2 separate regions of the Homo sapiens genome follow, and region 2 is linked to region 1. The links come from fine-mapping of genetic effects on gene expression. A gene starts in region 1. The other region holds a variant in brackets. All regions are shown on one strand. Distances are from middle to middle. Region 1 holds the start of MAP2K2 (mitogen-activated protein kinase kinase 2). Region 2 overlaps MAP2K2 (mitogen-activated protein kinase kinase 2).

Region 1 (10,708 bases):
TTATTTATTTACTTACTTACTTATTGAGACAGACCGTCTTGCTCAATCACCCAGGCTGGAGTGCAGTGGCGCGATCTCGGCTCACTGCAAGCTCCGCCTCCTGGGTTCACGGCATTCTCCTGCCTCAGCCTCCCAAGTAGCTGGGACTACAGGCGCCTGCCCCCACGCCCTGCTAATTTTTTTTGTATTTTTAGTAGAGACGGGGTTTCACCATGTTAGTCAGGATGGTCTTGATCTCCTGACCTCGTGATCCACCCGCCTCGGCTTCCCAAAGTGCTGGGATTAGAGGCGTGAGCCACCGCGCCCGGCCAGAAGGATGATTCATTTACTGTTCTATGTCAAGGGCAATGCCCACAGTACATACAATGGGATATCATCTAGCAAGGAAACCGAACTAATTATCGTTATGTGAAATAATATAAATGAATCTCAAAAATATTGTCTCAGGACCTGGTACAGTGACTGACGCCTGTAATCCCAGCACTTTGGGAGGCCAAGTCACTGGGGTCATTTGAGCCTAGGAGTTTGAGACCAGCATGGGCAACATGATGAGACCCCCCCATCTCCACAAAAAATATAAAATTAGTTGGGCATGGCGGTGGGAGCCTGTAGTCCCAGCTACTCCGGAGGCTGAGGTGGGAGGATGGCTTGAGCCCAGAAAGTGGAGGCTGTAGTGAGCTGAGATCACACCACTACACTCCAGCCTGTGCAATAAAGGAAAATCCTGTCTAAAACAAAACCAAAACCAAAAACAAAACATTGTCCTAAAGCAGAAAGAGCTGACACCAGGCCGGGTGCGGTGGCTCACGCCTGTAATCCCAGCCTATAATTCCAGCACTCTGGGAGGCCGAGGCAGGTGGATCACGAGATCAGGAGTTCAAGACCAGCCTGGCCAATATGGTGAAACCCCATCTCTACTAAAAATACAAAAATTAGCTGGGTGTGGTAGCACACGCCTATAATCCCAGCTACTCCGGAGGCTGAGGCACGGGAATCGCTTGAACCTCGGAGGTGGAAGTTGCAGTGAGCCGAGATCGTGCCACTGCACTCCAGCCTGGGTGACAGAGTGAGACTCTGTCTCAAAAAAAAAAAAAAAAAAAAAGAACTGACACCATGAGTGCAATTCCATTTACATGAAACTCTTGAACAGGCAAAAACTAATCTATGGGGATAGAACGCAGAATCTGGGGGGGTTTTGGGAGTAGTAGTGGACTGCAGCTGGCTTACAGCCACTCGTAAGCATCTTTGATACCATTGTCAACTTTATTTTTTTTGAGACTGACTTTCACTCTCGTTGCCCAGGCTGGAGTACAGTGGCACCATCTCGGCTCACCACAACCTCCACCTCCTGGGTTCAAGCGATTCTCCTGCCTCAGCCTCCCTCGTAGCTGGGATTACAGGCATGTGCCACCACACCTGGCTAGTTTTGTATTTTTATTTTTATTTATTTATTTTTTTAGACAGAGTCTTGCTCTCTTGCCCAGGCTGGAGTGCAGTGGCGAAATCTCAGCTCACTGCAAGCTCCACCTCCCGGGTTCACACCATTCTCCTGCCTCAGCCTCCTGAGTAGCTGGAACTACAGGTGCCCGCCACCACGCCTGGCTAATTTTTTTGTATTTTTAGTAGAGACAGGGTTTCACTGTGTTAGCCAGGATGGTCTCTGGTCTCGATCTCCTGACCTCGTGATCTGCCTGCCTCAGCCTCCCAAAGTGCTGGGATTACAGGCGTGAGCCACCGCGCCCGGCCTTGTATTTTTAGTAGAGACAGGGTTTGTCCATGTTGGTCAGGCTGGTATCGAACTCCCGACCTCAGGTGATCCACCCGCCTCGGCCTCCCAAAGTGCAGGGATTATAGGCATGAGCCACCACATCTGGTCTTCTTCTTTTTTTTTTTTTTTTTGAGACAGAGTCTCCCTCAGGCTGGAGTGCGGTGGCACGATCTTGGCTCACTGCAACCTCCACCTCTCAGGTTCAAGTAATTCTCGTGCCTCAGCCTCCCAAGTAGCTGAGACTACAGGCACCTGCCACCATGCCCAGCTAATTTTTTTTTTTTTTCCGAGATGGAGCCTTACTCTGTTGCCCAGGCTGGAGTGCAGGGGCACAATCTTGGCTCACTGCAACCTCCACCTCCGGGGTTCAAGCAGTTCTCCTGCCTCAGCCTCCCGAGTAGCTGGGATTACAGGTGCCCACCACCATGCCCGGCTAATTTTTGTGTGTTTTTAGTAGAGACGGGGTTTCACCATGTTGGTCAGGCTGGTCTTGAACTCTTGACCTCAGGTGATCTGCCCACCTCGGCTTGCCAAAGTGCTGTGATTACACCCGTGACCAGCCTAATTTTTGTATATTTAGTAGAGATGGGGTTTCACCATGTTGGCCAGGCTGGACTCGAACTCCTGACCTCAAGTGATCACCTGCTTTGGCCTCCCAAAGTGCTGGGATTGCAGGTGTGAGCCACCACACCCGGCCTCTCCTTATTTTAATGGCTCATTGTTAAACATTTACCAGCTCACTACTGCTGGGTGCAGAGGAAGAGAATGAACTAAAAAGGCAGTGAACAGACTTTCTGGAGTAAGGGGAAGTGTTACATGGATGTATAGAGTTGTAATAATCCAAGAAATTGAACTTCAGAAACTTGTGCATTAATAGGTGAGTGCAGTGGCTCACGGCTCTAGTCCCAGCACTGCTGAGGACGAGGCAGGAGGATCGCTTGAGCCTAGGAGTGTGAGACCAGCCTGAGTGACATGGAGAAACCCTGTCTGGACAAAAAATACAAAAATTAGCCGAGTGTGGTGGCGTATGTTTGTAGCCAGGGCTACTAGGGAGGCTGAGGTGGGAGAATCGCTTGAGCCAGGGAGGTGGAGGCTGCAGAGAGTTATGATCGTGCCACTGCACTCCAGCCTGAGGCCTGGGTGACAGAGTCAGAACTTGTCTTAAAAAGAAAAAAAAAGCCTAAAATAGGATAAAATGGGAGAAAGATTGCTAGGCAAAACAGAAGGAACATGGAAATAGCCCTGTCTCTGAAAGGGCCTGTCCTTATTTGAGGCCACATATGCATCCATCTGAATTTTGGACAAGCGGGTGGGAGCGATGAGAAGTAAAACTGAAAGGCCCAGATTGTAAAAACCCAGGAGCAGGCTTCCCCAGGAGCAGTGTTTTGTTTGTTGTTTTGTTTTGTTTTGTTTTTTTCGAGATGGAGTCTCGGTCGGTCGCCCAGGCTGGAGTGCAATGGCGTGATCTCGGCTCACTGCAACCTCCACCTCCCGGGTTTAAGCGATTCTCCTGCCTCAGCCTCCCGAGTAGCTGGGACTACAGGCACGCATCACCACACCCAGTTAATTTTTGTATTTTTAGTAGAGACGGGGTTTCACCATGTTGGCCAGGATAGTCTCAATCTCTTGACCTCATGATCCACCTGCCTTGGCTTCCCAAAGTGCTGGGATTACAGGCGTGAGCCACCGCGCCCGGCCAGTTGGTTGGTTTTGTTTTTTGAGCGTGAGTCTGGCTCTGTCGCCCAGGCTGGAATGCGATGGCACAATCTCGGCTCACTGCAACCTCCGCCTCCGGGGTTCAGTTATCCCACCTCAGCCTCCCTAGTAGCTGGAATTACAGCCACCCGCCACCACACCTGTGTAATTTTTGTATTTTTAGTAGAGACGAGGTTTCACCATGTTGGCCAGGTTGGTCTCGAACTCCTGACCTCAAGTGATCAGCCCACCTCAGCTTCCCAGGGTCCTGGGATTACAGGTGTGAGCCACGGCACCTGGCAAAAAATTAAATTTTTTTTTGTTCTGTTTTATTGGAGACGGAGTCTTACTTTGTCGCCCAGGCTGGAGGGCAGTGGTGCAATCTTGGCTCACTGCAACGTCTGCCCCCCGGGTTCAAGCGATTCTCCTGCCTCAGCCGCCTGAGTAGCTGAGACTATAGGCACACACCGCCAGGCCTGGCTAATTTTTGTATTTTATTTATTTATTTGTTTGTTTGTTTGTTTGTTTGATTTTTTTGAGACGAAGTCTCGCTCTTGTCTCCCAAGCTGGAGTGCAATGGCGTGATCTTGGCTCACTGCAACCTCTGCCTCCCGGGTTCAAGCAATTCTTCTGCCTCAACCTCGCGAGTAGCTGGGATTACAGGCACGCGCCACCATGCCCGGCTAATTTTTGTATTTTTTTGTTTTAGTAGAGACGGGGTTTCACCATGTTGGCCAGACTCGTCTTCAACTCCTGACCTCAGGTGATCCACCCGCCTCGACCTCCCAAAGTGCTGGGATTACAGGCGTGAGCCACCGCGCCCAGCCTATGACCTTTCTTATAAAGTGGTACGGCTATTGTATTAAATAGTAAGGTGGTGCTTCAAAAAGTTCAACATAGAATTACCATATAATCCAGTAATTCCTCTTCAGAACATATACCCAAAAGAACTCAAGGCAAGGACTCAAACAGATATTTGTACATCTGTGTTCATAGCGGCACGATTCACCGAAGTGTCTAGTGGCAGATAAATGGATAAGCAAAATATAGTCCATGCACACAATAGAATATTATTCAGCCTTAAAAAGGAGGAAAATCCTGACTGGGTGCGGTGGCTCACGCCTGTAATCCCAGCACTTTGGGAGATCGAGGCGGGTGGATCACGAGGTCAGGAGATGGAGACCATCCTGGCTAACACGGTGAAACCCCGTCTCTACTAAAAATACAAAAAAATTAGCCGGGCATGGTGGTGGGCACCTGTAGTCCCAGCTACTCGGGAGGCTGAGGCAGGAGAATGGCGTGAACCCGGGAGGCAGAGTTTGCAGTGGGCCGAGATCGCACCACTGCACTCCAGCCTGGGTGACAGAGCGAGACTCCGTCTCAAAAAAAAAAAAAGGGAAATTTTTCTTTTTTTTTTTTTTTCTGCTCTTTTTTGGAGCAGGGCTACCCGATTGGAAGTATGCCCGGAGTAGTCAAGTGGGTAAATTCTAACACAGGTTACAACGTGGATCTAACACAGCTACAACAGGCACCTTGAGGACGTGGCCCTCAGTGAAATATGCCAGCCACAAAGGGACAAAACCTGTGTGATCCTACTCATATGAAGTCCCTAGAATCATCAGATTCACAGGAAGTACGACGTTGGGTTCCAGGGGCTGGGGAGGGGGATAGGGAGTGAGGTTTCATAGGGGACAGTGTTTCAGTTTCGGAAGATGAGAAAATTCTGGAGATGGTGGTGGTGGTGGTTGCTTAATGCCGCTGAGCTGTGCATTTAGAAATGGTTAAAATGACAAGTTTTATGTTATGTGTATTTTATAATAAAAATGTTTCAACATGCGCATAGTAATATATGCAATTTTATTTGTCAATTAAAATAAATTTTAAAAATGTTTTAGAGTGGCCTTGTTCTGATGAAGGAGGGGGAGTAACTGACACTCTAAGGCGGTGGGGGCTAGGGGCGTGTGTCCACGCTTGCCAAAAAGATTAAATGGACTCTGGGTGGGTCTCGTCCACTGTTCTGGGGTCTTACGGGTTCTCTCAGCCCCAGCCTGGGGCACCACAGGCTCTCAGGAGTCTGGCTACCCTGCCCACCTGTGCACGACCATCACCCCAGCCTTCATCCCTCCGTCTCCTCCCCTGCTCCCGCGCCTCATGCCCCAAGCGCTTGGGCACACGCGCCGTGGTAAGGCAAGCGAGGGCGCCCGGTCCCGGCACCGCCTCGCGTCGGTCTCCGCCCCTTTCCCCTCCGAAAGGCGGCCTTGTGCTGCTGCGCAGGCGCGGCGGCTGGGGGTGGGGTCCATCGCGGCTCCCGATCCCGTTATCGCGAGAAGCCGGTCCGCGATCTTGTGGCCGCCCCTCCCCTCCCCCTGCCTCTCGGACTCGGGCTGCGGCGTCAGCCTTCTTCGGGCCTCGGCAGCGGTAGCGGCTCGCTCGCCTCAGCCCCAGCGCCCCTCGGCTACCCTCGGCCCAGGCCCGCAGCGCCGCCCGCCCTCGGCCGCCCCGACGCCGGCCTGGGCCGCGGCCGCAGCCCCGGGCTCGCGTAGGCGCCGACCGCTCCCGGCCCGCCCCCTATGGGCCCCGGCTAGAGGCGCCGCCGCCGCCGGCCCGCGGAGCCCCGATGCTGGCCCGGAGGAAGCCGGTGCTGCCGGCGCTCACCATCAACCCTACCATCGCCGAGGGCCCATCCCCTACCAGCGAGGGCGCCTCCGAGTGAGTGGGCAGGGGTCAGCCGGAGGCTTGGGGTGCACGGGGCAGGGAGCCCTCGGGGAAGGACGGGGCGAGGGGACGGGGGTTCGCGAGGAGTGCACGAGGCAGGGGGGTCACGGGGGAGGACGGGGTGAGTGGTGCACGGGGCAGGGGGTTCTCGAGGGGAGGACAGGGCAGGGGACCCTCGGGGGAGGACGGGGCAGGGGGCCCTCGGGGGAGGACGGGGCAGGGGGCCCTCGGAGGACGGGGCGAAGGGTGCACGGGGCAGGGGGGTCTTTGAGCAGTGAGATTGGGCGAGGGGAGGTCCTTGTGGTGGAAAAGATGGGGTGTGGGGTTCCTGAAGAGTGGAATTGGGATAACGGGAGTCTCTGAGTAGTGAAGTTGGGGTGAAGGATGTCTCTAAGAGGAGAGGATGGGGACAGGGGTCCCTGAGCAGCGAGGTTGAGTGAGGGGAGGTCCCTGCAGTGCAGAAGATGGGGTGTGGGGCTTCTGAAAAGTGAAGCTGGGGTGAGGGGAGTCCCTCAGTAGGAAAATCGGAATGAGGGGTGTCCCCAAGGAGAGAACAGGATGAGGCTCCCCAAGCAGTGAGATCGGGGTGAGGGGTATCTCTAAGAGGAGAGAACACAGTGTGGGGTCCTTGAGTAGTGAAATGAGGGTGAAGAGTTCCTAAGAGGAAAGGACGGAGTAAAGGTTGCCGTAGTCATGAGATGAGGGTGAGGGGAGACCCTGAGTAGGGAAATCGGGGTGCAGGGCATTCCTGAGAGGAGAGGATGGGGTGTGGGGAGGTCAGGCAGCCCCTGAGGAGGAAATCTGGGCAAGGGGGCTCCAGAGGGGAGAGGATGGGGTGAGGGGTCCCTGAGTAATGAGACTGAGATGGGGTAGGGTCCCTGGTAGGAAAAGACGGGGTAAGGGTCCCTCAATAATGAGATAGGGCCAAGGGAGGTCCCTGTGGGAAAAGACAGGGCATGGAGTCACTGAGTAGCAGAATGGTGGTAGGTCTCTGAGTAGTGAAATGGGGTGAACGGTCCCTGAATAGTGAAATCGGGGAGATGGTGGGGTCCCTGAGTAATGAGATTGGAGTGAGGGGAGATCCCTTTGGGGAAAAGATGGGGTTTGGAATCCCTAAGTCGTGAGATCAGGCCAAGGAGATGTCCTTGCAGAGAGAAGATGGGGTGCAGGGCCCCTGAATTGTGAGATGGGGTTGAGGGGGTCCCTGGGAGGAGAGGATGTGTCGGTGGGGGCCTGTGGGGGAAGGATAGGCAAGGGGTGTTCTGCATATTGAAATGATAGTGAAGCGAGTCCCTTGGGGGAGAGATGGGGTGAGGGGGTCCCTATGGGGGAAAGATGGGGTGGGAGGGTTCCTATGGGGGAGAGATGGGGTGAGGGGGTCCCTATGGGGGAGAGATGGGGTGGGAGGGTCCCTATGGGGGAGAGATGGGGTGAGGGGGTCCCTATGGGGGAGAGATGGGGTGAGGGGGTCCCTGTGGGGGAGAGATGGGGTGGGAGGGTCCCTATGGGGGAGAGATGGGGTGGGAGGGTCCCTATGGGGGAGAGATGGGGTGGGAGGGTCCCTATGGGGGAGAGATGGGGTGGGAGGGTTCCTATGGGGGAGAGATGGGGTGGGAGGGTGCCTGAGCCACAGGTTGAGAGTGCAGCACCTGGGTGGGGAGGACAGGCTGAGAGGTCTTGGGGGGGCGGGGAGCGGTCCTTTTGGGGAATGAGTCCCTGAGTAATGAGGTTGGCATGGGATGAAGAGGGCACCTAGGGTGCCAAGGTGGGGCAGGGGGGTCCCTTAGGGGAGAGGATGGGGTGAGGAGGTCCATAGACAACCAGGGAAAAGGGAAGAGAGGGGAGGACAGGGGGCTCCCAGAAGGGTCAGGATGTGGGAGAGGGGTGTCCTAGGGGGTCACGATGGGGTGGGAGACCCTAGAAAGGTCAGGATCGGGGGACTTTGGGGGGGTCAGGGTGGGAGTTCTGGGGTATCTGAGGACAAGGGGGTGTCTTAGGGGTGTCAGGACATGGGGGGGCTTTAGCGGGGTCAGGATGGGAGTTCTAGCGGGTTCCAGATGGAGGGGTTTCTGCTGGGGGAGGTCTAGTGGGATCAGGACAGGGGTTCCAGGGGGTTCATGTTGTGGGGGGGGTCAGGTTGGGTCCTCGGGGGTCATGTTGGGGGATTCTGGGGGGGTCAGGTTAGGGGGTCCTCGGGGGGTCATGTTGTGGGGGTTCTGGGAGGGCAGAGCAGGGGGTCCTAGGGGTCTCATGTTGGGGTTCTGAGGGGGTCAGGATGGGGTCCCAGGGAGGTCAAGATGTCAAGATGGGCATCTCTGAGAGGGCATCTCCTGCTTGTGGCGGTGCCCAGTGTGTGGAGTCCCTGAAGCTGGAAGTGTGAGGAGACAGGGAAGCCAGAGTGTGAGGAACGAGGAGGCGTGGGGATCAGGGGACCCTGCTGGCCCCTGAAAGCAGAGGTGCAGATTCTGAAGTGAGTGGACCGGAAAACCCTTGTGAGGGGCTGACCCAGTGCAGAAGCTTTGAGGAGGTGGAGGGCGACCAGAGGCCTGGGTGAAGGGATCTGAGAAAGGGGTATGCTGGGGTCCGGGTGGCGTGCTGGCAGAATCGCACTGCTCCAGGACGAGGGAGGGGACTGGGTGTTGGGGGCACACACTGGTGGGGTCATGCCAGGGTGATCTCTGCACTCCCGTTCTGCAGGCCGAGGCAGGGCAGGGCGATCCCCGGGGCCCTTGGCTGGGGTCCGGGTGCCGTGCCTGCGGTGTGACCCCTCAAGAACCAGGTGTCAGGGACTGTGGCATGTCTGGTGGCCTCTCCCGCTTGGGGGTCGGCCTTCTGTGACCCAGATGAAGACTCTTGATGCCAATGTGTGCAAGTCAACACGGGCACAGCCAGACACGGGGACCCGTTCCTCATTCTCTGCACAGAACTCGCCCTTCACATTTCTCTTCCGTGTGGGGTTTGATTCCCATCTCTTGAAGGATTCCCCCAGGAGAGGAAGCTGGCTGTAGGGACGCCAAGGTTTTGTTTTGTTTTGTTTAATAACCACAGTTGGGTTGCCAGTAAATTTAAGATGGATTAGTCAGCTGACTCCAGAATGCATTTTCAATGTTTTGAGCAGTACTTGAGACCTTCCAAGTCTGCCATCAGAAGTGTTCATTCATGGCTGGGTGTGGTGGCTCACGCCTGTAATCCCAGCCCTTTGGGAGGCCAAGGTGGGTGGATTACTTGAGGCCCAGAGTTCAAGACCAACCTGGCCAACATGGCAAAACCCCGTCTCTATTAAAAATGCCAAAAAAATTAGCTGAGCGCGGTGATGCACACCTGTAATCCCAGCTACTCAGGAGGCTGAGGCAGGAGAATCGCTTGGACCCAGGAGGCAGAGGTTGCAGTGAGCTGAGATCGTGCCAGTGCACTCCAGCCTGGGCGACAGAGCAAGACTGTCTCAAAAAAAATAAATATTCATTTATTCATTGATGTTATTCATTCATTCATTCATGTTCCCCTCCTTACCTTCTGTCCCACTCCCAGGGTCTCGCCATTTCTGCTTCTTCTGGGTCCTTGTTCAGCAGCTCCTCAGTGAGCACCTACTAGGGCCCTGTTTCCCCTCATGGGGGACACTAAGATGAGCAGGGGTTGTCCTGACCTCAGGCAGGTGTTGTTACCTCGGGCAGGTTCCCCCACCCCTGTGAGTCTGTTCCCTCCTGCCTGGGCCTCCGGGGACGATGGTGAGAATGGAATGAGATGGTGTTTGTCCAGCCCAGGAAGCGGTGCCCAGGCCCCTGCCTTCCAGCGAGCTCTTTGCAGCACCAGCTCCAGCGCCATCGCCTCGGTTCTGGCCTGTGTGCCCCGTGGCTTACGCCACTTCCAGCTGTAGGCGAACAGTGGTCGAACTTTGGGATTGGAAATTTCCAGATGGAAGGAGCAGTCCACGCCTTCATTCCCTGCTTCAGTCCCCTCTCTGGCTGTCCACCTTGGCTTTAGCTCCTTCCTGAATTGGGACCTCTGGAGGTGGCCTGTTCTTCCAGAGAGCCATTTAAAGCTGCACTGCCTGGTTGAGTAGCCCCTGGCTACAGGCAACACATAAAACAAGAATTGCCCAAACCCACGAGAGCATAGGCGCAATAATGCCATTGTAGATTTCAAAGGCTTAAGACGGAAACAGTGTGAAACATTCATTCATTTTTCATACTGGTTGTACGTTGAAAATGATAACATTTTTGATGGGTTAAATCAAATGTGTTATTAAAATTAATTTCAGCCAGGTGCAGTGGCTTATGTCTGTAATCCCAGCACTTTGGGAGGCCAAGGTGGGCAGGTGGCTTGAACCCAGGAATTCAAGAGCAGCCTGACCAACATGGCGAAACCTTGTCTCTACTAAAAATACAAAAATTAGCTGGGCGTGGTGGCGGGTGCTTGTAATTCCAGCTACTTCGGAGGCTGAGGCAGGAGAATTGCTTGAACCCGTGAGGTGGAGGTTGCAGTGAGCCAAGATCACACCACTGTACTCCAGCCTGGGCGACAGAATGAGAC
Region 2 (10,708 bases), 36 kb after region 1:
CTGCGGGGAGCAGAGGGTGTGTGCGTGGGAACAGCTCTGGGCTCTGAGCTCCGCCGCTCCTGCCTGGTGCTGGTCCCGCACCCACAGGATGAGACCCCGGGCTTCTTTGCCCTCATGAGAGGCTGGAGGCAGCTCTCAGCCCCCCAGGCTCCTTTCCCTGCAAACTAGAGGGTGACCATCCCTGTTCTGCACACTGGCAAGCAGGTCCCCCGAGGCCGTGCGTACTTCGGTGTCCCCTTAAACCCCCATCCTCTGATATCCTCGGAAGCCCAGCTGTTCACCAAAACTCGCCTCCCCAGCGGGGACTACACCCTCAGAGGAGGGCCCCGGGCATCATCCTCCTGCCCTCAGCCCAGCCTGCATCCCGAGTGCTTTCCCATACCACAGCCACCGTCAGCGACCTTCAAACCCCTCGACAGCTGATTGGCGGATTGGAGATGCCACCCCCCTAGACAGCCCGTTACTTTCTGTGCCTGTAAGAAAAGAAGAGATGCCAGCTACAGACACCCAACCGGGTGCCTTCTAATACTGGAATGTGGCTTTCAGTTTTGTTTTTTTCTTGAGAGTCGGACAGAGTCTCACTCTGTCGCCCAGACTGGAGTGCAGTGAAGCAATCTCAGCTCACTGCAGTCTCAGCCTCCCAGGCTCACACAATTCTCCAGTCAGCCTCCCAGGTAGCTACGATTACAGGCACCCGCCACCACACCCGGCTAATTTTTGTATTTTTAGTAGAAACAGGCTTTCACCATGTTGTCCAGGCTGGCCTCAAACTCCTGACCTCAGGTGATCCACCTGCCTCAGCCTCCCAAAGTGCAGAGATTACAGATGTGAGCCACCGCACCTGGTCAAAAAAATTTTTGAGATACAGCCTTGCTCTGTCCCCCAGGCTGGAATGCAGTGGTGCGATTGTAGCTCACTGTAGCCCCAACTCCCGTGCTCAAGTGATCCTCCCACTCAGCCTCCTGAGCAGCTGGGGCTACCGATGTGTGCCACCAAGCCCAGCTAGTTTTTGTGTGTGGGTTTTGTTTTTCCCCGCAAAGATGAAGTCTCACTCTTGTCACCCAGGTTGGAGTGCAGTGGTACGATCTCGGCTCACTGCAACCTCCGCCTCCCAGGTTCAGGGAATTCTCCTGTCTTAGCCTCCTCAGCCTCCTAAGTAGCTGGGATTACAGGTGGCTGCCACCACGCCCAGCTAATTTTTGTATTTTTAGTAGAGATGGGGTTTCCCCGTGTTGGCCAGGCTGGTCTCGAACTCCTGACCTCAGGTGATCTGCCTGCCTCAGCCTCGCAAAGTGCTGGGATTACAGGCGTGAGCCACCGTGCCCGACCTGCCCAGCTAGTTTTTTTTATAGAGACAGGGTCTTGCTAATTGTCCAGGCTGGTCTCAAACTCCTGGGCTCAAATGATTCTCCCACCTTGGCCTCCCAGAGGGCTGGGATTACAGGTGTGAGCCACTGCACCTGGCATGTGTGACTTTTTTTCTTTTTTAATGAGGCAGGCTGGGCATTGTGGTGGGCACTTGGAATCCTAGTGCCATAGGGGGATGGCTCTCTGAGGCCAGGAGTTCAAGGCCAGCCTGGGCAACATGGTGAGACTGTGCCTCTCCAAAATAAATAAATAACTAAAAAGAGAGGGGTACTAATGTTGAAATAACTTTTTTTTTCCCTCAGACGGAGTCTTGCTCTGTTGCCCAGGCTGGAGTGCAGTGGCGCAATCTCGGCTCACTGCAAACTCCATCTTCCAGGTTCAAGCGGTTCTCCTGCCTCAGCCTCTCGAGTAGCTGGGATTACAGGCTCGTGCCACCACACCCGGCTAATTTTTGTGTTTTTAGTAGAGATGGGGTTTCACCATGTTGACCAGGCCAGTCTCGAACTTGTGATCCACCCACCTAGGTCTCCCAGAGTGCTGAGATTATAAGCATGAGCCACTGGGCCTGGCTGAAATAGCCATTTTTGAACCAGCTTCTTAAAAATGCTCCCCTGTTGGGTATCCTGGACCTAGCCAAGATGTGTCCTATCAAGTTGGTTGGTTTTTCACCCATACCTACACCGACTTTTAGGAAGATAGGCACCTTGGCCTGCCTCCAGCTGCAAAAGAGGCAGCATTCAGGGGCCCAAGGTCCTGGACACCACCCTCCTGGGAACCCCAAAGGCCTCTACTCACCCACTGTGGGGTGGCCCAGCACAGCCTCTTCCCCAAGGGCACCCGCCCTCCTCCCCCAGCCCTTCCAACCAAGAGGCTTCTCATGTTGTGCTGTCCTGTACAGGAACCGCTGGTCACACGTGGCTGTTGAAGTGTGTTCAGTGGGGCCGGGCACAGTGGCTCACACCTGTAATCCCGGTACTTTGGGAGGCCGAGGTGAGCGGATCATTTGAGGACAGGATTTCGAGACCAGCCTGGGCAACATGGAAAAACCCGGTCTCAACTAAAAATACAAAAATTAGCTGGGCATGGTAGCACGCACCTGTAATCCCAGCTACTTGGGAGGCTGAGGCGGGAGAATTGCTTGAACCTGGGAGGCAGAGGTTACAGTGAGCTGAGATCATACCACTGCACTCCAGCCTGTGCGACAGAGCAAGACTGTCTCAAAAAATAAAAATTAAGGCCAGTTGCGGTGGCTCACACCTATAATCCCAGCACTTCGGGAAGCTGAGGCAGGAGGATCATTTGAGTTCAGGAGTTCGAGACCAACCTGGCCAACATGGTGAATCCCCGTCTCTACTAAAAATACAAAAATTAGCTGGGTGTGGTGGCACATGCCTGTAATCCCAGCTACTGGGGAGGGTGAGGCAGGAGAATCGCTTGAACCCGGGAGGCGGAGGTTGCAGTGAGCTAAGATCACACCACTGCACTCCAGCCTGGGCAACAAGAGTGAAACTCCATCTAAAAAAAAAAAAAATTAAAGTAAAAGTATTTAATTAATTTGTTAAACTGAAATAAAATTGAGGCTTTTGTTCTCAAGCCATGGGAGCCACAGTCCAGGGGCTCTGGAGCCTCATGTGCTGGCGAGTGGGACGGTGCCTGTACAATGCTCTTCGCGGAGTTCTGTGGAACAGCCCGTTCTTGCCTGGGCTGTCCTGCTCCGGGGGACCCTGGCAATGGCTGAGGACATTGTGGTGTCACGACTTGGGGAAGCCCCTGGCATGGAGTGGGTGGAGGCCAGGGACGCTGCTCAGTACCCTGCAGTACCCAGGATGGCCCCACGCCAGAGAATGATCCGGCCCCGGTGTCCACAGCGGCCGGAGGACCCTGGGCTTGCGCGAGCGTAGACCCTCCCCTGGGAGCGCAGGCTGCCGTGCTGGTGGTGTCCCCGCCCCAGGTGGAGTGCAGCATCCTGAGACCCCTCCCAGGCCTGGCACACGCCGCTGCCCCTTTCTGGGTTTCTTTCCCTCTCCTACCCCGAGTGCGTCTTCCTGTGGGGAAGGGAGGGTCTCCTCTGTTTTTTGCTTTCTGTCCCGTACCATCTGCCAGGGCTGGGCAGACGCTGGCCCTCCCCGTCCTACTGTGACTCCAGGCCCGGGTGCTCACGGCTCCCCTTTCCTTGCAGAACCACACCTTCATCAAGCGGTCCGAGGTGGAAGAAGTGGATTTTGCCGGCTGGTTGTGTAAAACCCTGCGGCTGAACCAGCCCGGCACACCCACGCGCACCGCCGTGTGACAGTGGCCGGGCTCCCTGCGTCCCGCTGGTGACCTGCCCACCGTCCCTGTCCATGCCCCGCCCTTCCAGCTGAGGACAGGCTGGCGCCTCCACCCACCCTCCTGCCTCACCCCTGCGGAGAGCACCGTGGCGGGGCGACAGCGCATGCAGGAACGGGGGTCTCCTCTCCTGCCCGTCCTGGCCGGGGTGCCTCTGGGGACGGGCGACGCTGCTGTGTGTGGTCTCAGAGGCTCTGCTTCCTTAGGTTACAAAACAAAAC[AGG/G]GAGAGAAAAAGCAAACCGCGCCATCCTGCTTCTTTCTTCCGTTCGGCGTTGGGTGCTGGGCTTTGCTTCAGCCCAGCACGGAGAGGACATCCCTGAGCTGACCCGCATCGCCGGGCGCCGAGGCTGGAGGGCGCAGGGCCCTCCCTTAGGGAGAGCTCGCCTCTCCCTTTGGGTCAAGGGATGAAGACCTGCAGTGAGCCCCCAGGCGATGGCGGCTCTCACCAAAAGGAAGGAGAGTGAGGCTGGGGGCGGCGGCTCATGCCTGTCATTCCAGTGCTTTGGGAGCCTAAGGCGGGAGGATCGCTTGAACCCAGGGGATTGAGGCTGCAGTGAACCTCGATGGTGCCAGTGCGCTCCGGCATGGGTGACAGAGCAAGGCTACTGAAAAAAAAGAAGGGAAATGCCACCTGGTTTCCCTCTGTGTCCTCCCCGCCACCATCTCTGCCCCTGTGGAAGGCAGAGCTTCGGCCTTCCGTGATGGAAACCACTTCCTCTACACTGCTCCTGTCACGTAGCCTCCGCGGGAAGGCCGCCCCTGCCTCTTCCCCAGCGTGGCACCATCCTCTCCCTGTCCCCCCGCTTCAGGGAGTGGGGGCTCCCAGCAGTGGCAGCTGAGCTGAGACTCAGCCCCACAGAAAGGAAGCGCTGGCTTTCCAAGCTGTCGGTTTGGTTGGAAACCCCAGCAGGTCCCGAGACACGCCCTGCACTCCCCCTGCGTCCGCAGCAGGCCCAGCCCAGGGCGGGTGGTTCTGTCACCTCTCCTCGCCCAACAAATCAGAAGTGACCACCAGGGCATGTGACACTTTCGGGCCTTTGAACTGTTCCGCCGCAGTGGGCTGCAGATGAAACGGTGAGGGCTTGTCCTGGGGTCTTCGGGGTTCCCGGAGGCCCATCGCCTGCTTCTCCGGTTGTCCGAGATCCAAAGCCCAGCCTTTCTACCTTCGGGACTGTGTGCTCGGATAGAGGAGGCCACCTCTGGGCTAGGTGTGGTGGGCAGCTGGGCTGTTCTAGGGTCCCTCTGAGCTCTCTAAAGCTCTTGAGGCTGTGAGCCTCCCCCTTCAGTACTTCCTGGAGACTACCAGCAAGCTGATATTATCTGCGGGCGAATTGTAGGGGAAGGGTGGCTGGCAACTGTGTTTCTGGAGGAAACAAAGCAGAAGGTGGGGGCTTGTGGTTCTGTGGGAACTGCTGGATTGTCCTTTTCTTCTTAGGGTGACCCTTCTAGTCTTGTGTGGCTTTTTTTTTTTTTTTTTTTCTGCAGACACCAAAGAAGAGATGAGTTGACACCTCCTGCAAACAGCTCCCCAGGCTGCTCTCCTTTATGTTTTGCCCTAAAGTCTCACATGACTTAAAAAAAAAAAAAAAAAAGCCAGGCTTGGTGGCTTACACCTGTAATCTAAACACTTCGGGAGTCCGAGGCAAGAAGATCACTTGAGCCCAGGAGTTCAAGACCAGCCCGAGCAACATAGTAAAACCCTATCTCTACAAAAAAAAAAAAAAAAAAAAAAAAAAATTGGCCGGGCATGGTAGTGCACAACTGTAGTCCCAGCTACTCAGGAGGCTGAGGCAGGAGAATCACCTGAGCCTGGGGAGGTGGAGGTTGCAGTGAGCCAAGATCTCACCATCACACTCCAGCCTGGGCGACGGAGTGTGGCCCCAAAAAATAAAAAATAGGAGAAAAAAAAAAGTGTTGAAGGTGCCGCCCTGTGGGTAACCAGGACCCTCAGGATTGCCGGGAGGGCCGGGGGGAATGTGTTGGCTGCCTGTGCTCCAAACCGGCGGGACCTCGGCCGGTCCTGGAAACCCCAGGGTCCCGGCCACCCCCTGCCATTGGCAAGGAATGAAAGGACACGGAGTCCCAGGGGAGCAGGGGCAGTCTGGGCTAGGTGGGGATGGACCCCGCGCCAGGATCCCTGCGGTGTGCGCAGCCATCCTGCAGCTTCATTGGAGCCCCACGGCACCCCAGAGGGAAGGACGGGAGAGAAGCCGTGGTCTTGCCTATCTTCCCTGCCTCGCTTCAGGGTCAGACTTCTAGAAACTACTTTGTAGATGTGGCAAGAGTGCGTCCACCCTGGCGGTTTCTAGATCTCTCAACTCCTGCTCCCCCAAGAAACCTCCCAGACCCAGCCGCCGCCTCATCCGAGATCCCCCTCCTGCCTGCTGTCCTTTGGACTCGTTGCCTCATTTTCTCCACTGTGGAGGCCTGGGAAGGGATCCCGGGTGCTCCCAAAGGTGGCTACACACCTGGGGATGCCCCTTTTTGCCCTGGCCACGGACATGCTGCAGTCCAGGGGGTAGGATTTCCCTGCCTCCCGGGGCCAGACCCTTTCCTGTAAAACATGCAGCATTTTAAAATTTGCAGGGCATGGGCTGGGTGGCTCACGCCTATAATCCCAGGACTTTGAGACCAAGGTGGGCAGATCACCTGAGGTCAGGAGTTCAAGACCAGCCCGGCCAACACGGCGAAACCCTGTCTCTACTAAAAATACAAAAAAAAGTTAGTCGAGCTTGGTGGTGGATGCCAGTAGTCCCAGCTACTGGGGAGGGTGAGGCAGGAGAATGGCGTGAACCTGGGAGGCGGAGCTTACAGTGAGCTGAGACTGTGTCAGTGCACTCCAGGCTGGGCGAGACAGCGAGACTCCGTCTCAAAAAAATAATAAAAAATAAATAATAAATAACGTTTGCGGGGCTTTAGGGTGAAGGGAGTGTCACTGAAAGCCAGGCCTTGGGGGGCCCTGGGGCAGCTCACTCCTTGACATTGGAAGGTTTTACACAGACGTGTTGAGGTTTTCTGTGGTTATTAAAAACCTCCAGATAGGCCGGAAGCGGTGGCTTATGCCTGTAATCCCAGCACTTTGGGAGGCCAAGAGGGGCGGATCACGAGGTCAGAAGTTCGAGACCAGCCTGGCCAACATGGTGAAACCCTGTCTCTACTAAAAATACAAAAATTAGCCAGGCATGGTAGCACGCCTGTGGTCCCAGCTACTCAGGATGCTGAGGCAGGAGAATCGCTTGAACCCGGGAGGCGGAGGTTGCAGTGAGCCGAGATCGCGCCACTGCACTCCAGCCTGGGCGACAGAGCAAGACTCTGTCTCAAAAAAAAAAAAAAAAACTTCTCGACAACATGATAGCCCTGCCCCCATGTCTGAGGCCCACGTGGACCTGGGGCACACCACCTGTGGCCCCAAGAAGACTCCTACAGTGTTTTGTCGGCTGTTTTCCCAGCTCGGTATTTTTTTTTCCAGACAGAGTATTGCTCTGTCGCCCAGCCTGGAGTGCAGTGGCATAATCTCAGCTCACTGCAACCTTCACCTCCCGGTTCAACTGATTCTTGTGTGTCAGCCTCCCGAGTAGCTGGGACTACAGGTGCCCACCACACCCAGCTAATTTTTGTGTTTTAGTAGAGACAGGGTTTCACCATGTTGCCCAGGCTGGTCTCAAACTCCTGACCTCAAGCCGTCCACCCGCCTCGGCCTCCCAAAGTGCTGAGGTTACAGGCGTGAGCCACCACGCCCACCCCCCAGCTTGGTATTTTCATCGTAAATAAACAGCGCTTGACTTGCTCATATGTGCTGGCTTCTGCCTCCGGAGAGCATGGGCAGCCCTGACATCCCTCTCCATAGTGCAGTCTGTCCCCGGACACACCAAAAAGTCACTGGCTCCATGCAAGTGCCCCAGGCTGTGTGCCGGGCAGGATTTGCTAACATATTTGATTTATGAAGCTGGGGTCACAGGCGACTGCCTGCTCGCTTCATCCTGTGGAATTCTCCCCAGGTGGGACCCAGGCCGGCCCTGGGACAGGCACATACTTCCTTCTCCTCCTGCAACAACCGCCTCGGGGTGGGGCAAGTGGAAAGGTCATCAAATGAAATGAGGCCGGAGAAGCAACCAGCCGCCCAGAGGGTGAGATTCCACGCGGGGCACCACGCCATAGCGTCCCCGTCCTGTCCCCATCCCTGCCACCCCAACCCAATGTGCACATTGCACCCCAGACGAAATGTACATTTCCCAGTTTTAGCAGGATTTCCCTGTTAAAACATTTTAAATAGAAAGGGCTGGGCACAGTGGCCCACGCCTATAATCCCAGCACATTGGGAGGCCAAGGCGGGAGGATCACTTGAGGTCAGGAGTTCGAGACCAGCCTGGGCAACATGGTGAAATCCCATCTCTACTAAAAATACAAAAATTAGCCAGGCATGGTGGCGGGCGCCTGTAATCCCAGCTACTAGGGAGGCTGAGGCAGGAGAATCCCTTGAACCTGGGAGGTGGAGCTTGCAGTGAGCTGAGATCATGCCACTGCACTCCAGCCTGGGCAACAGAGCGAGACTCCATCTCAAGCAAACATAAATTAGCCAGCGTGTTCACTTAAACCCAGGAGAGGAAGGCTGCAGTGAGCCAAGATCGTGCCACTGCCCTCCAGCTTGGGCGACAGAGCAACACTCTGTCTCAAAACAAACAAACAAACAAAAATTAGCCGGCCTGTTCACTTAAACCCAGGAGACGGAGGCTGCAGTGAGCCAATATCATGCCACTGCCCTCCAGCCTGGGTGACAGAGCGAGACTCTGTCTCAAAAAAAATAAATACCGTTCTGGTGCAGGGGCTCATGCCTGTAATCCCAGCACTTTGGGAGGCCAAGGTGGGTGATCACCTGAGGTTAAGAGTTCAAGACCAGCCTGGCCAACATGATGAAAGCCCATCTCTACAAAAAATACAAAAATTAGCTGGGCATGGTTGTGGGCACCTGTAATCCCAACTACTTGGGAGGCTGAGGCAGGGGCGCAGGAGTTACCTGTTCCACCCCGCGCCCCTGCATTCCAGCCTGGCAACAGAGGGAGACAGACTCCATCTCAATAAATAAATAAATAAATAAATATTAATAAACAAAATAGAGGAAAAGAACAGATGATTTGATAGTATATTTCACCCAGCAGAGCCAAAATATTCCCGTTTCACCTTGGAATCAATATGAAATATTTAGGTTTTTCTCTCTTTTTTTTTTTTTTTTTGAGATGGAGTCTCGCTTTGCTGCCCAGGCTGGAGTGCAGTGGCGTGATCTCGGCTCACCACAACCTCCACCTCCCGGGTTCAAGCGATTCTCCTGCCTCAGTCTCCCGAGTAGCTGGGATTACAGGCATGTGCCACCACACCCGGCTAATTTTTGTATTTTTAGTAGAGACAGGGTTTCACCATGTTGGCCAGGCTGGTCTCGAACCCCTGACTTCAATGATCTGACCGCCTTGGCCTCCCAAAGTGCTAGGATGACAGGTGTGAGCCACCACGCTGGGTGGTTTTGTTTTGTTTTGTTTTGTTTTGTTTTTTTGGATGCAAATACTTGGGAATTTTGTCTGCCAGGGACTGCCTGACCGGCCGGCACAAAACTCAGTCATTTCTGTCCCCTCACAGATGTCTTTTAATCCACTGGATCTTAGCAGGAACAATTCTGTCCCCCCACCCAGGGGAGGCTTGGAAACTCCCAGACGTCTGTGGTTGTCGAGACAGGGGGTGCCCCTGCCATGGAATGGATGGAGGCCAGAGATGTCACCCAGCACCCTGCAGTGCCCAAGGCAGCCCCACCTCCCGAGGACCATCCAGCCCAGATGTCCCCAGTGCAGGTTGGAGGCGGGGGTCTCAGGCAGCCCTCCCTGGGGCCAGGGCGGTTTCCTGTGTGCAGAGTCTGGGACACAGGGTGGAGGGGGTGCAGGCAGGGGACAGCTGCACCCGGGGTGGGGACATGATGGGGCAGCACATAAAGAAGCTTCTAGAAGGTGGGCGGTCTAGGGCCACGTGGCCAGGGGTGGAGGTGTGTGACCTGCAGGAAGCCTCAGGTCCCGCAGGCGGAACTCAGCCTCCTGGAGGCCCTGGGCTCCAGGGCAGGTTAAGGAGAGTTCAGAGGAAGTTGTCACAGCCTTTCCCAGAATGCAGGGGTCTGGCGAGGAGTGGGAGGGAGGGAGGAAGAAGGGGCCCGGCTCAAAACGAAACCAGCAGCGGCCGGCGGCCCCACCCCTCCCTCCGCTCCTCTTCCTGGCCTCTGAGCTGACCAGGTGTGCAGGCCCCGGGGCCTCCAGGCCGCACCTGGAGCAACAGGCCAGGTGGGTTTAGGGTGGCGCAGGAGTTACCTGTTCCGCAGTCCCTGGCAGGCGGACAGGAGAGGCCTGGGCCCAGTGGCGACCTGGAACTGGAGGCCCAGTCTCAGGTTTCTGCCAGGCTTCCCAGGGGAGGGACAGAGGCCTGGAGAGAGGCCCCCTGGAGGGTAGCACAGGTGAGGACCCACCCCCCCAGCTGGGACCCTGACCCCAGCTCTCTCCCATCTACCAGTGACTCACCACCAGCCCCTCAGGAGAGCAGGGCCTCCTGTTTTGTTTACGTTTTTGTTTGAGGCAGGGTCTCACTCTGTTGCCCAGGCTGGAGGGCAGTGGCGCGCCATCATAGCTCACTTCAGCCTCCGCCTCCCAGGTTCCAGCGATCCTCCTGCCTCAGCCTCCTGAGTAACTGGGACTGCAGGCGCGCGCCACCATGCCCAGCTCATTTTTTGAAACTTTCTCGTAGAGATGGGGTCTCACCGTATTGCCCAGGCTGGCCTGAAACTCCTGGAACTCCTGGCCCCAAGCAATCCTTCTGATCCCAGTGTGCTGGGATTATAGGCGTGAGTCGCTGCGGCCAGCCAGGGCCTCCTGTTTGAACATCAGGACCACAGGCCTGACGATATTTCTGCTGTCCTTGGGCCTGTGACCTTGGGGAAGATAGAATCCCCTCTGAGAGCCTCAGTTTCCCTATTTGCAAAGGAACT

The links. PIP is the estimated chance that this variant, and not a neighbour inherited with it, causes the effect.
Region 2: its variant is fine-mapped to the expression of MAP2K2 in whole blood (TOPMed, PIP 0.98).

The regions. Positions count from the first base shown.
Region 1 is chr19:4,119,248-4,129,955 of GRCh38, reverse strand. It overlaps MAP2K2 (mitogen-activated protein kinase kinase 2), which reads left to right and starts at 5,834. Exons shown (of 11, transcript NM_030662.4): 1 at 5,834-6,172. The coding sequence starts at 6,081. RefSeq lists silencers at 5,682-5,801, 5,992-6,241.
Region 2 is chr19:4,083,548-4,094,255 of GRCh38, reverse strand. MAP2K2 (mitogen-activated protein kinase kinase 2) reads left to right here. Exons shown (of 11, transcript NM_030662.4): 11 at 3,548-3,935. The coding sequence ends at 3,658. Among named protein-coding and RNA genes, the nearest start is that of ZBTB7A, 22 kb to the right of the region's middle. RefSeq lists enhancers at 4,311-4,390, 3,746-4,522, 4,801-4,970, 9,462-9,601. The variant AGG/G (reference allele first, on the strand shown) is at 3,918.